Regions from separate parts of the Homo sapiens genome. Here region 2 is linked to region 1. The links come from fine-mapping of genetic effects on gene expression. Tissue or cell type: sun-exposed skin. Region 1 holds a variant in brackets; the other region holds the start of a gene. All regions are shown on one strand. Distances are from middle to middle.

Evidence for each region. PIP is the estimated chance that this variant, and not a neighbour inherited with it, causes the effect.
Region 2: PAK6-AS1 starts here. The variant in region 1 is fine-mapped to the expression of PAK6-AS1 in sun-exposed skin (GTEx, PIP above 0.99).

What each region holds. Positions count from the first base shown.
Region 1 is chr15:39,399,206-39,407,144 of GRCh38, reverse strand. All of the region lies in intron 1 of LOC105370777 (a long non-coding RNA gene), which reads left to right. Among named protein-coding and RNA genes, the nearest start is that of LINC02915, 150 kb to the right of the region's middle. The variant A/G (reference allele first, on the strand shown) is at 3,954.
Region 2 is chr15:40,250,264-40,256,668 of GRCh38, reverse strand. PAK6-AS1 (PAK6 antisense RNA 1) reads left to right here and starts at 3,710. Exons shown (of 2, transcript NR_168270.1): 1 at 3,710-4,011; 2 at 4,130-6,005. BUB1B-PAK6 (BUB1B-PAK6 readthrough) reads right to left here. Exons shown (of 10, transcript NM_001128629.3): 2 at 3,380-3,491. It overlaps PAK6 (p21 (RAC1) activated kinase 6), which reads right to left. Exons shown (of 11, transcript NM_001395430.1): 3 at 3,380-3,491. RefSeq lists enhancers at 1-50, 124-173 and a silencer at 3,639-3,728.

The sequences.
Region 1 (7,939 bases):
ACTTTCTGAACCTCCAATGACAAGTCATCACCATCTATCATGATGCTCTTTTCCAACAGTGATTTCTGTTGTCATCAGTGAATATATCTGACACATTGTATTATTCATATGTTCTTTCTAAAGGTCCAGTTAGATGACTTGTATTATCTCTGATAGGTGACAATGGAACTTAAAGCACCAGCCAAGTAAATCTGGTGAGGGGGCAATTGGGGTATCATCTAGGAAGCTGAGACAAAAATGAGGGAAAAGAGGGACACTGTCTTACGTTATATGAATTAGCTGCATGTTTTGGGTTGAACTTAGCATTTTATTTATTTGAGCGTTAATACACTTAAAAATACCCATTTCAGTGCCTGTTATATTCTAGAAATTGTACTTGGTGCTAGATTTACAACAGAACAAGAAAGATGTGGTTCCTCTTTGCATAGAGCCATGGTCTAGTGGCTAGAAGTGTAGCCACAAGAGACCACGAGATCATCTAGTACAAACCACCTCATTTTACGTATTAGAAAATGGAAGCACTGAGATGGGAAGGAAATCGCCCTTTGTTACAGCTGATGAGTAGCAGAGCCAGAATTCTAACTTGGCTCTTAGGACTCACAGCCCAATTACCTGGTTAAATTAACAAAGTGAATTAATGCAGGTCTGCAGACATTACGGCTACAACCCCCTCAACAGTCTCCTGTCTGTGGCCTAAAAGTCTCTGCCCTTCCCCTAGCCTCACAGATACCAGATAGGGACATAAATATCAAGGTGAATTTTAGCTGTGATGTTAAATTAGATCATATTCCTGTGTGATGAAGAAGCAGAGTGATGGAGCATTGTTCCCTTTGGGTGAAAGTCGTCTTCTCCCTCTACCCCTCAGTGCATTTCTGGGCCTGCCTGGGCAGAGAATTTTGGCCAACTACTGGATTTTTGTTAAAAATGATAATTAAAGAGGGAGCAGGAAGGGAGTACGTTCCAATATGATCCAGAAGAGTCAGCACTTGCTCTGGATAATAAATTCTTTATGCTTCAGGTTATTACTTAACCTGTGTTTCAGGTTCCCTTCTGGAATCAATAAAGGGACATTCTCAATCTGTGGATTTAATGACTGACTTCTTGCTTATAGAGCTAATACGTTAGAACCACAGGAAGGTAGGTGGTGGTCTGGAATCATCCACAGTGTGTACGCTCCTGCTCTTTGTAGGACTCTTGCAGGCAACTTTTAACCTTCTTTCAAGATTGTCTTTAATAGAGATCCATATTTCTGGAATTTTCTAGAAAATAAGAGTTTTAAGAATGTAGTGGGAGTTTTTAGACTGGTTTTATATGACATTGGACATGCATTTTAATATGGAATGCTGGGGTTGTTCCTGTAGGCCTCCCAAAGTCACAAAAAGAAGCATCCTTCCTCAAGGCTCCCGACACATTTCATTGATGGTCTTAGCCTGTGTGTGGTGCCCACCCTATGGTGAACCCAGGGCTCCTGCAATGACTCGACTGCAGCTGCCATTCTCTTCCTTTCTCTCCCATTCAAGGAAGCATATGACCATGTTTCCCAAACTTGTTTTACCTGGAACCTTTTATTTTTTTTCAGGGATTCCCTATTAATAATTCGTGGCACTATTCTGTAGAATAAAACTTGGGAAACAGTGACATATAGACAGGAAAATGAGTGAATGCAATGATGTTGCAGGGCTAATCTCACCACAGTTCAATTTATTAAAGCAAAATGTGTAATTCCTCAAATTCTGTACTTTAATTTGTATTGATAATCCAGCGCTGGAGTTAACATAGATTTCAGGAGTGAACAGAATGCTGGTTCTATTCCCTTGGTTCTGGCTTGAGAAGGGGCTGAAGAAAATGGTGAGCCCACTCAACTGAGGGTAGTGTCTACTTCTGCCCCAGAGAATTTGTCCCAGGGAGGATGCAGCTCAGAACAGCAGGTTTTTCTTAAGTGTGTACTTTCATTGATGCCTCATTTCTGGTCAGCGTGAGGGGAAAAGCGGCAAAAAGATAGTCACTCAAGTTAGTCATGTTGGGAAACTTATCTGTTTTAGGCAGTGGTTCCTCTCAGCAAGGGGTGGAAGATATGTGGTCCAGCCTCAGGCTAAAGCCGTTTCCCAGTACTATCACTAATACTAGTCCTGTGCTATTTCCAGCTCCAGCTCGTCATTTGTCTATTGGCTTGCGAAACTACCATCTAAGAGGGCAAAAGCATTTCTACTGCCTTGGGCCATTTCCTTCTGACATTCTTTACTGATGACCTCTGAAGCAGCTATGATCACTTCTTGGCATGTCAGACCATCATCTATTGGCTCTTTGTCTCACCAGAAACAGGCCAGCCCCAGCTGGTCCAAGCAATATGAGTGTGGGTTAACTTCAGGGATACAGGGTCCTGGGCTGGTTCCCAGCTGGTCTGCATTTAACAAAGCAAAATTGGGAGTTGTGATGATCTGGAGGTGTTCTGAAGGGGTGAACTGGTGGAATTACAAATTACTTAGTTCATTCCCTGCCCTCTAGTAGAAATGAATCTAAACTAATCCAGACTGGTAAGAAGGATAGACACAGTATTAAAGGCCTATTGCAAAGAAGATGCTATAGCTACTTTCCTTCATTTTGGTGACCCCAAACTTTGATGTTTCTTGGTGATGGAAGAACCATGACTGTCCCTCTTCCATAGAATTTTCCTTAGGGTCCACTGAATTCATGTACACATGCACACGCACACACACACACTCACACAGTTTACTATTACCATTAGGGACTGTGGTGCATGTGGCTGTGTGCTGAGGGAAGAAAAAAAATGCATAATAGCCTGCCTCCAAAAAAATGTATCAGATATAAAACATATGCAAAGACACATATGATAAGAACCATGTGAGTATGGACCATGAGTTAGATTTATGAGTGTGGGGTATTGTGAAGGAGGTGCATCTGCAGCTGAGAATCACAATACAACAACAACAACAACTACTACTACTACTTTTTAACATTTATTAAACAGTTGCTAAATTCCTGGTATGGTTTTAAATACCTTGACACACTCTTCTAAGTGCTTCATATATGTGTTTAATCATCACATTCCTCGAAGGAAGACAGAGGAGGAAATTGAAGCATTTAAGTAACTTGCCCAAGGTCACACAGCTGCCTAAGGGTGGAACTAGATTTAAATCCAAAGCAGTCAGGTTGCACAGCCTTGCTCCTGTCTCCCAAGTATGCTGTCAATAATCGAGGAATTTCAATATGCACAGAGAAGAGCAAAGGCTTTCCTGCTGAGAACAGACTGGTCAGTAAAGGAGTAGGGGTAGTAACGTTTTAGATGGGAGCAGCCTGGCTTGTGGGTGCTTAGTGTAGTGATTGGCACAATGCCTGGAATGGAGTAAGTGCTTGTTTGTTGAATTATAGGAATTTGAGTTATTGACTGAATGGCTAGAGAGAGATAATGTTAGAGAAGTAGGCTGTTATCAAATTGTGTAGGGTTTTGAATTTCAGCTTAAGTGGTTTAAACTTAGTACTGTGGATGATATCTTCTCTACAATGCTGGATTTCTGAAGAGGCCAACACACTAGTCTATAAATGTGCTATTCTATACATTCTTCTTTGCATTTTCTCTTTTTCAGTGCTTTGTATACAATTGCTAGAAAAAAATGGAAACCATGCTAATCGAGCCTATTACCAAATGCTTGCTAAATTTTGCTATTTAACTATAGAAGTTATATGTTAGCTTTAACTTGACAAGTCAGTCTTTGCTTGTGATGCCCATAGCCCCTTCTAAATATATGCTAATGGACAAGTCTTTAGGTAACCCAGTTATATATGGTGTGACCCTACTCTCTCTGGCTTCTGTGGGCATCATGACATGACAATGCACTTGCTTTTTAAATATCAAGAATATGGAAGCATTAGCAGTGGATGTAGAAACTGGAAGATTATGCTGAAGAGAATAGTCAAAGAGGACACAAAGAACT[A/G]CATGTATAGTGAAATTATGAGGGAGTAGAGGTAATACATAGGGAGAAATTATTTTATGTATCTTGAGCCCAGACGTTTTGATTTCAAATTCAGTTCTGGATGCTTCCTGAAATTTTCTATAAAGTTAAAAGTCCTCCCACCCCTTTTCAATATTCATTCTCCTTGACTTTTCTGCTGCATTTTACATAATTGCTTGTTCACTTTTTTTGGAAACCCTTTCTACTGAAATGCGATATTCTCCTGGGTCTTCCCCCTTCCGCTACTGCCCCTATTCTCTTCTTAAGCACCTTTCCTTCTATGCTCAAGCCTTTGATGAAACACATTTCTTTTCTGACTTTCCCTCTGCATAATGTTATCCATGGCCAGGCTTTAAACCCTCATCACTTTTCATATGTGCCCCAAAGTATGCAGACAACAGAGACATCTTTTCCAAGCTATCATGGGAGGGCTCCCATTTCTAGTTCTTTGCACAGTGCTTCCAACTGGATAACACTAAATCAAGAACGTTCCATGTAGTTCCGTGGATGCCCCCTTGGTTCAAGACTTTATTACCTTTTACCTGGCATCTTTATTCCCAAAGGATTTTATATGCTGCTGCCAGATGAATCCTTAAATCACAGCTGTGATTCTGTCACTGAAGATTTTGGGTCCTAAATCTTCAGTGACTCCTGATCTACCAGAAAAAATTTACATTCCTTAACATCATACTTCAGTGCATCTTCAATATGGTTCCACCAGACGATGCCAGAATATCTATGTGTTGATGCTTTTGCAAGTAGAATCCTTCCTATTCCTCCTGTAGCTTTTGAAATTCTATTGGTTTTCTCCAAATTTCCAGAGTGCTGCCTCTTTGATAAAGCATCAGCCATTCTAAGTGGAATTGATATATCTTTTTTCCAAATGTCATGAGGTTATTATTATTTTTTGTTGTTGTTTGTAATTCAGTTAAGGCAATATTATAAGCTTATTGAATATTTATTTTACTTTCCCTGTGATAGCACTAATTTGAATTTGGCTGTTATACAGTTGTCAAAGCTCCCTATGTATGGCCTGCTTGCTCTCAAACCCTGGCCTTTCCCTGCTCTGTTCTGTATCACAGGGGCCGACCTTAGGGCTAAGCTGCCCAGACTTTTGTGTCAACTGGTTTCGCACCGGGTGGTAACAATGGCAGGTGCTAGCATGAGAAACCAGGGTCTTCTCCCACTCCCTTCTGGCTTTTGGAAGCTGTGTCAATGGAGCTGTATCTCTTTTGAGACTCCACCTTGCAGCTGACAGTTCCAGCCTCTAATGGTGGTCCCTGCCCTTGGGTTCTGGGAGCACAGTCTCCTGTTTTCCTGCCTAGGGATGACAGTGGCACCTGCTCTTGTTTATTTCTGGGCTCCTTGTTCTTGCAACACATGTATAATCAATTCCCATATATTAAATTTCTTTTATTTTGAAATACAAATGGTTTCTGCTTTTCTAGGATAGGTGATGATGAATGCACTCCCCTTCTAATTTTCACACCAGATGCTGTCTTATTCTTACACATGTGCCATGGTGCCTGGTTCTGTGATTTGCATACTGTAGGTGCCAAAAAATATTCAATAAATTCATAAGTGGAGGAATATTGCTGTTTAAAAATAGCTGTTAATTTTTAGAGAAATTACTCAGAAAAACTTAGGAGGCACTAACTATATTAGTTGCCAAGGAGCAATACCAAAAAAACAAAAAATTGAAGACAACATCCCTGTCATCGAATATTTAAAAGGCTACTGGAAGATTTAAAAAGGACATTCAATTTTGCAATAGAAAATTTAGTGGACTGGAAAATATCTACTTAAAATATTTCTTTGTCATGTTTTCTTTTCCTGAGCATTGAGGAATGCTTGTGAAGTTACGGGGCTTGAATTGTTCTTAAAATTAGCTATCCAGTGTCTTTTTCTAATCCCAAATATCGGTATTCTCCACTTTGGCCCTAGGAGATTAGGAGGGTGTTAAAATGGTTACTGTGTTACATATTACATTGATTTTGAGTGTTTTATTTCTTGAGGTCCTTGAACCAACAAGAACTCATGTGTTCTCTGAGTCACTGTCATCGCCACTGCTCTGTAGGTTTCCCACTCCCAAGAGCTGCGATAACAGGGATGACTATACAGCAATGTGTGGGTTGCAGCTGGAGTAACAAGCCAGCACTTTCAGACCCATCCTCATGGCAAAGGAAGGTGGATTTGTGCTTTAAGTTATTAATGGAATTCCCTACTCTGCCTTTGGACTGACTCATGGCCTTGAACCTTCTCTCCCCGTTTTAATTTCCTCACTCTTAAGAAAGTACACGAGTGATGGAAAGAATTCTGTTAGAAAATGACTTGATAGAATACAGAATGAGCTCCGAGGGAGGGAGAATTTAACCACTGCCATAGATAGGTGCTGCCACACAAAGTTGTTGTGAGAAGTAATTAGTCTGGCGGATCTGGGGAAGAATGTTGATTTGTTGAATCAACAATTATTTATTGGGTACCTACTACATTACCAGTGACAAAGACTTTCCCTTGACCAAAACTTTAGTCAGGCTCCTCTGAGTCCTCTGATTGACCTTGAACTTCCCCCTGTGTCCTTATAGAATCCCATTTGAGCAACAATCCTCCTAAGTCAGGTTAGAAAAAATTCTCCACCCTTGGAATTCCTTGATATCTTATCACCCTGGCCTGCCTTCGGCCATAATCCTATCAAGTTGATTTAGCCAGAAAACCTTTATCCTTGATATTTCCTGTTAGTAATTTTCTATCCACTGCCCCCTGCCCACCTGCTCCTTGGTGATAAAACCTGTCATGTATTTGTTGGAGTCAGAGTTGAGCCAGCCTCTCTCCCCCACTGCAAGACCCCACTGTGGTGGTTTCTATACCTGTAGCCATGTCCCCTGCCCCTTGAATAAAGTTTGCATTACCATCTTTAACAAGTGTTAAATGTGTGGTAGGCCATTGATTGGACTGAGCTCCTGTACCAGGCTCCAAGAGACCAACCAAAATGGAGTCACTCAAGCTAAGGTTCCCTGTCACCGAACTGAAACCTAAGCTGTTTACTTGTAAGATCTGACCTTTGGAGAAATCAGGAGAGATTATAACCAAAACCCTAAGCAGGAAAGTTTTCTGAAAAAATAAGAGATTCACAGCAACCAATCAAAAGAAGCCCAGTCCACCTAAGCCAGCATGTAAAGCAGTCTCCACTGCTTTAACCCGTAAAGGAAAGTAACCTGTAGTAAAATAAAGGAAAGTAACCTGAGGTAACCTGATGTTAACCAATCCAGTTTTTGCATTAGGCTGTTGCCTTGTTCCCGCTCAAGCTACCTTACAAAAACTGACTGTTCTGCCATCTCCAATGGAGCTCCTGTCTATTTTGTAGACTGGATGCTGCCTGGTTCATGAATCACTAGTAAAAGCCAATTAGATCTTTAAAACTCAATTTGTTGAAATTGTGTTCTTTGACACAAGTGTCATGAGTAATTTTTTAATTTAACACCAGTACTGTGGTTGGTAGTAAGAATTCAAAAGAAGTTGCCAACAAGCTTCTGCTTTTATCATAAGAAAATATACTATTCCTGTTTTCCTATTGTTAATCTTTGAAGAAAAAAGATCAGAATGACCTTTTCTGTTTGTTCAGATTCTTGGAGTTGAAAGCAATGGGGAAAAGCACACATTTGGTCTATTGGAGTTAGTATCTCTTACTGCTTTGCATGCAGATGTGGTTATTCATGTAACAATGCATAGTGTCTAAAGTCTCCTTAAAATGTCTGCCTGCATTGACAGGGAACACAGACATTTAAAAATAAGTTAGTTTCCACTTGGGAGGAGGGTCCTGAGGGAGTGAAGTCAGAACCTCTAGCCTGGAAGGCTGGCCTGGTAACAATTTGTTCATTGCTGAGTGTGTCGGAAATCAGCTGGGACTTTAGTTTTAGTAGAACTTTTTTCTTTTTTCTCCCAAAGGAGAATGTGTCCATGACTATTCA
Region 2 (6,405 bases), 850 kb before region 1:
CCTGATGTGAACTTGGCTGCAGTGGCCATCTGCTCCTACCACCACCCTCTGTTATTCTCAGGCCCATCCAAGACACTCTGGGGAAGGGCCTATCCTAGAATCACAGCCCCAAGACAGAGGTGAGCCCCGAGTGCTACAAAACTTAGGAAAGCACTCTACTACCATCACCAACCTGTCAGAGTGGCCTCCAGAGGACCCTGTCACCTCCAGGGCTGGGCCCTGACATGCTGAGACCTGCAGCAGGGTTTCTTGACCTCTTTGTAACCCCCTTTGGGAACTGTCATCCCACACACATTCTGACAGGTGACAGGCCTCACCTGACCCCTTGGCTGAGAATTACCGCGAACAGAAGACAGCCTTTCACTGGAATATTCTCATTGGCCAGAAGGATTTTTCTCAAACTTTACTTTCAGAAGTTTGTTTCAAAAAAAAAATTTTTTTTTAGAGACAGAGTCTCACTCAGTCGCCCAGGCTGAAATGCAGTGGCGCGATCAGAGCTTACTGCAGCCTCGAACGTCTGGCCTCAACCCACCCTCCCACCTCAGTCGCTTGAGTGGTCAGGACTAGAGGAGCATACCACCGTGCCCAGCTGGGAAATTATAGTATTCCTTTATTCAGAAAGTATCTATTATGGACCTACTCTACTCCAGGCTCTGGGGACCATGGTAAACGAGAGGAAATCCTCACTCCTGTGTGGTTTAGTTTGCTTCTTCCAAACAGGTGTTGCTCTAGGCCAACCTTCTGCAGCCAGAAGAGATGGTAGTGCAGGATCTGTGGCACTCCTGACGGGGTCTGACCTTCCCCTTGGCCCAAAGTTCAGTCCCTCTGGCATTCCCAACAGGAGGCTGCCCGCACTCTGCTAGAACTCATTCAGCGATGAAAAGCTCCCCCTGCAGCCCCTGCCTTCTGTCCCCTCTGTCCCCTCGCTGATCCTTGTGTGGAGCTGAACTCTGTCTCACCTCAGCCTCTACTGGGGTCCGAGTCTGCCATCTGCTCCTCTTCACGTGACTTGAGAGTCAGGAGAGGTGGCACCCCAGCACCCTATCCTGGCTCCCAAAATACACGGGGGAAGGAAATTTCATCTGCTTTTCTGCTCAGCTGTCACCTGCGGGGGAGGAGGGTCCTAGACGCAGGTTGTGGCCCTCATGTGGATGCCCACAAGATTCAAACAACCTGCTCAGGGTCAGTGTGCTGAAGTGCGGAGAGGCCCTGGGAGGATGAGCAGGACCCTGAGGCTCTGCTGTCCCACTTGAGGGACCCAGACAGATGCAGCATGGGCCAGGGCAGACAGCATGACATGCAACCTGCCAAAATGTTTGGGCTCTCTGCCTTTGTCACTATTCCCATACCACTGGCCCCAGTGAATCCCCAGGGGAGAGATAATGGGCTGCTGTTTAAAAGAATACAGTAATACAGCTCATTCAGTCACTTGTGTCAACAGGCGTGAGCCACCGCGCCCGGCCTACCCTAGATTCTCAACAGCCTCTGCACACAGAGGTCTGAGTCCTTAGCATAGGGTCCTCAATGCCTAGCTAGGACCCTATGCTAAGCATTGGAACCTCTGGCATTGGAACCCTATGCTAAGCAGAAGGAACCTCTGGCATCCCTAATCACAAGATTGCCTTTTTTTCTACAGCTCTTAACTTTCCAGACCTCTATTTCACCTCCTTAACACTCACAACTTTACACTCACAACACCATTGTGAGTTGGGCTGAACCTGCTTTCCTGGGCCCATTTTAAAGACAGCAGGGAGCTGGAGAGAGAAGGAGGAGGCAAGAAAAGAAAGGTATGCTTATAAAGTGCCCACCACATGGATAGACTGTGCTAGGTGCTTTTTATTAGTACATCTAATGGCTAATTGTAGCTACTGCGAGCTCTGTTTTACAGATGAAGAAACTGAGGCTCAGAGAGAAGTAATTGTCCAAGACAGTAAGTGTGGAGCTGGGATTCAAAGTCAGATCTCTCCGACTCCAAACTCCAGGCTCATCCACAATGCCCAGTGCCCAGAGAAGTCAAGTGACCTGCTCTGGATCACACAGCTATGCAGAACAGAGATGGGACTGGAAGCTCAAGCCAGAGGCTCCCTCTATCCCAGGCAACAGTTGAGGTTCCAGGGTCACCCATGAACACATGAACATGTGTGATGTGCAGGGGGCGCTGCTGTTTCTGATGCCCAAGCCAGATCCTCTTCCAGGAATGGCCCCTTCCCTGGGTCACCACGAGGTCCAGAGACCCTGAATTAGGGTCTCTCACTACTCGCCCTCCAAGGACCCCTACCTTTACTTTATTCCTATTGCTTTGCTCTAATACCCTCTGACAATAGCTTGCCAAACAGCCAGACTGCCCTCAAAGCTCTCCAGGATGGGAGAACTTGGAGTGGCTTAGCCCTTCCCAACATAGCAGCTGGAGGCTGATGAGGCAGTTACTCCCCACAACCGCCTAATGAGGAGGAAGGCATTCGCATTCCCATTTTACAGATGAGGCCATTTATAAGTTTGTAGAGAAGTGAAGCAACTTGTCTAAGGAGTCAAAGGCAAAGTCTGGATAGATTCAAACCCCACTCTCTTCGGTTCCAAATGTGTCTTCGGCCACTGTCCTATATACTATGGAGGAGAATTCATGGCACTGCAGGCTGAACCTCACCTTGCATGGAACCAGGCGTTTTCTTATCCAATGCGGCAACCTATGCCACACCGGCCACCAAAAACGAGCATGGACACAGACCTGAGCCCCTCTGCCCCCTTCACCCAGAAAAACAAGTCAGAAAAGCCCCCAAAAAACCACCAGAATGGGGCAAGATACAGAAAACGCAACCTACACCCTGGGAGCTCTTCATGGCTTAGCCTCCAGTGCTCCCAGCAGCACCTACACTCCAGATCGGATGCCACCTGAGCAGGTCTGGAGATCTGGGGAATGAGCGGTGGGCTGGGATGTGTGGAGCGGCAGCTTCACCTGTAACTCCTGCGGGAGTCTCCCACGGCTGCCTCCCACCCTGCCCTGCACAGCCACTGGGCCTGCCACCACCCTTCCTGTTTGGGAACCTCTTCCCCGGCATGAATTCCCTGCACTCTGCCGCGGTGACACCCTCACCCAGGACAGGCATCAGACCTGAAGATGGGCCCGGGGGCAGGGCGGGCCATTTGAGGTCTTGACGTCTACCAGCCTACCGTGGGGCCATGGGGCAAAGTGGTGTAAGTGACTTAACATGCACCCACTAAGGATCGAGAGACGGCACCTGGAAGGGACCACCTCCGCTGCCTAGCAGTACCAGGAAGGAGCCAGCCCAGGAGGGCCACCTGCCTGCCCACTGTCCCTCCCTGCCTGCTCTTCAAAATGGGTGCAGAAGGCTCTAGGGCCGGGGGCCGCTCGCTCACTCACCTTCCGGCGCCTTCCGCCTCTTCCTCGCGACTCCTCACCCGCACTGGGCCTCTCTCTTAGGCGCTGAGGAGAGGGAAGACCTGGGACCTTGCTGGGCCAGTCCTCCGCAGGCCTGCGCGGAAACAGATCAGAAATGCATTATGGCAAATGTAGCAAGTGTTCCCGCGGGTGTTGCGACTGGCTGACGTCCAGGCGCTGGGAACCGCTCCGCGCCCGCCTCCCGACTGAACTCCTGGCTCAGGTGCAAGAGGCGGCAGGCTCCTTGCGGGGCTTACGGGGAGAAGGGGACGTTGGGCGCAGCACCGCTTCCGGGGCGGCCCCTCTCCAGCCACACTCCGACCCGGCGCGGCCACCCGGCCCCAGCTCGCAGGCCCCACTGCTGCGCCCTCTCGGGGACGCGAATGCCCCGCGCCGGGCGGGCGCCCGCGGAGGGAGGTCCCGCTCCAGGGACGCGGAGCTCCAGATGCCTGCGCCCAAGGCCCCTCGCCTGGCGCCGGCTGGTCCCGAACTTCGGGGCATGGGCACCCAGGAAGGGGGCTGCGCGTGTTGGGAGGCCCGTCCTCTCGCCGCGAACCTCCGGGGCAGCCGGGGAACCCACCTGCGGAGCGGGAAGCCCAGGAACGCTCGAAGAGGTCGTGGGAGCCGGGCCCGCCCTCCGCGGGAGGGACCTCGGCGCGGGAACGCCGAGGAGGGGCCGCGCTTACACGTTGGTGCAGCGCCGGCTTCACCTGACCGCGATTTTGATTTCAGGGTGTGGCCTCAGGTAGGACGCGGCGGCGAACCCAGAGCGCGGGAGAAGTTGCCAAGTGTCGCTGGGGCCTTGGCCAGGAGCCCCTCTGCCCGAGGGGCGCCGTGCTGCTCAACTCTTTCTCTCCACCTGCTTGGCCCCAGTTCCCGCCCGCCCTTCGCCTCCGGGCCCTGGCCTGGCCACAGCCGCGGGGACCTGCCTGCGGCTCCACGGCCCAGTGGCCGCCTCGCGGAGACCCGACCTGGAGAATCAGCTGAGCGCCGGCTGTGTGTAATCACCTCGTTCACTGGCATCGCAGATGCACGCTCCAGAGCCGCGGGCCGACTCTCCCGGACCTGAGCGGGCCGCGTGTGCCCACCCACACATCCTGGAGAGCCCACGCGGGAGTCGGAAAACCTGTCACCTTGGATGATCTGTCCCATGTGGACAGGGCCCCAAGACTGTGCTGGGGTAGCCCCTTGCGCAGGCAGGAAAGCGGGATTTAAGGGATTCCAGTTCCCTTGTCAGCCCTTGCGCAGTCCTGAGTCCTGAGGACTTTCTAGCCTGAGAGTCCTAGGGCAGGAGACCCGCACCCCCAGAGCGGCTAGGGCCTGTTTCGGAGCCCCTCCGCCTGTGATTTTGTCCCAGAGTCGGCATCCTCTGCTTGTCCTCAGCAGTCCCTGCCTAAGATCAGAATGGCCATTCCAAGGGGCTCACTCCTGGCTGCCCCTGTGCCATGTTTCTTTTGGGGTACAGGGTGTTTTCTATACTGGGGGAAGGGACAGGAATCACTCATCTCTTCCCCAGATAAAGAAGTGAGAAGACCTTTGCTCTCCTTGTCTTGGGCCCCCAGAGAAAGGCTGTGTTCTGGCTGAGTGCTGAGGAAGTTCTGGCTTGGAAACTCAGTACATGTGGACTCCAAATGGCTGCCGTCAAGTGGTGGCTGGGTGACTGCCAGTGTCACAGAGCGGGGACCAAGGACAGTGCAGGGATTTTAAAAATCATTGTTGGGCACCTCAGACTTCAATGATTAACTGAGGTCACTATGGCCACTTATTTTTGTTCACTGATTCTTTAGACGCATCAATCTACTCACGGCTCAATCTTTTGCATTATAGGCTGTATTGGTTTCACACAATTTACTCTAAGGCGCCCACCTAATAGAGCTCAGGCAACCCGTGGGAACCTGACAGTCCCAAACAGGTCTGTACCCTGTGTGGCTGCACCACAAGCCCAATGCCCTCGGCTTTCCTAGGGAAAGCATGGTGCCAGGTGCAGATGCTGGCCCTCTGTGCTGTGGGACAGTGGTGTGGGAGCCAGCCAGCTAACCATACCCTGCTGCCATCCCCAACATCCCCAACACATATTTATATTTAGTTTCTGTTCTCCTCCCCTTACTCTGTCGCCTCCTCCTCCTCCTCTTTGTGTCTTTCCCACGCGGATTCTTTCTCTTTCCTCTGAGTGGACAATACTGTAGGCCTGACCCGCTTAGACAAACTCTGACCTCCTGTGGTCACCCAGGAAGCTGACTGCTAGGCCTTGGATGAGGGGGCAGTGGGAGGGGGACCAGGTGATACCAGAATGGCTCCCCCCACAGATTCGTTACCCAAGGACATGGGTACACTGGTCGAATGCTGGCTGCAGAAGCAGAATGTGCTGCGTGGAGGTGGCAGAGATTGGTTGCTGAGGATTTGAAATGAACCATGAACCAAAGCTAGAATGAAAGCATTATATTGTCTAACCTAGAATCGACACCCTAAATTATTTTTACTGATTCATGAATGCATATGTGAATTATTTTCTTTGACTACAAATGCCTTATATACCCAAATCACAGCTCCAAGCAGTACTTTTGAACAGAACTACAATAAAGTATGAATGTTAGATTATTACCAGAAATGAACTGGTATTCAATTTGGTTTGAATCCAGGCTTAGGTACCCTAGAATGGCGACTAGCCAAGTCCCATCCTCACCCTATAGAGAATAACTCTAGGAAACCCTGGGTTCCTCCCACCCCTTGGGAGCTACAGTGGGTTTGGGGCCTTGAGAGAGGCAGAAGGTCAAGTTAGACTGACCAAGGAGGTAATGAGTCCCCCATCACTGGAGGTATTCAAGAATAACCGTCAGTTGGGTAGGCCAGAGAACTGGATACAAGACTAGACTAGGGAATCCCTCAGGTCCATCACAACGCCAGTTTTCTGCACTTCCAGTCTCGTCTACATGAGGTTCAGCTGCACCGGGTTGCACGATCCGCCCCGTTGCCACCCCTCTCCCCACACATTGAGACAGCTGGGGATA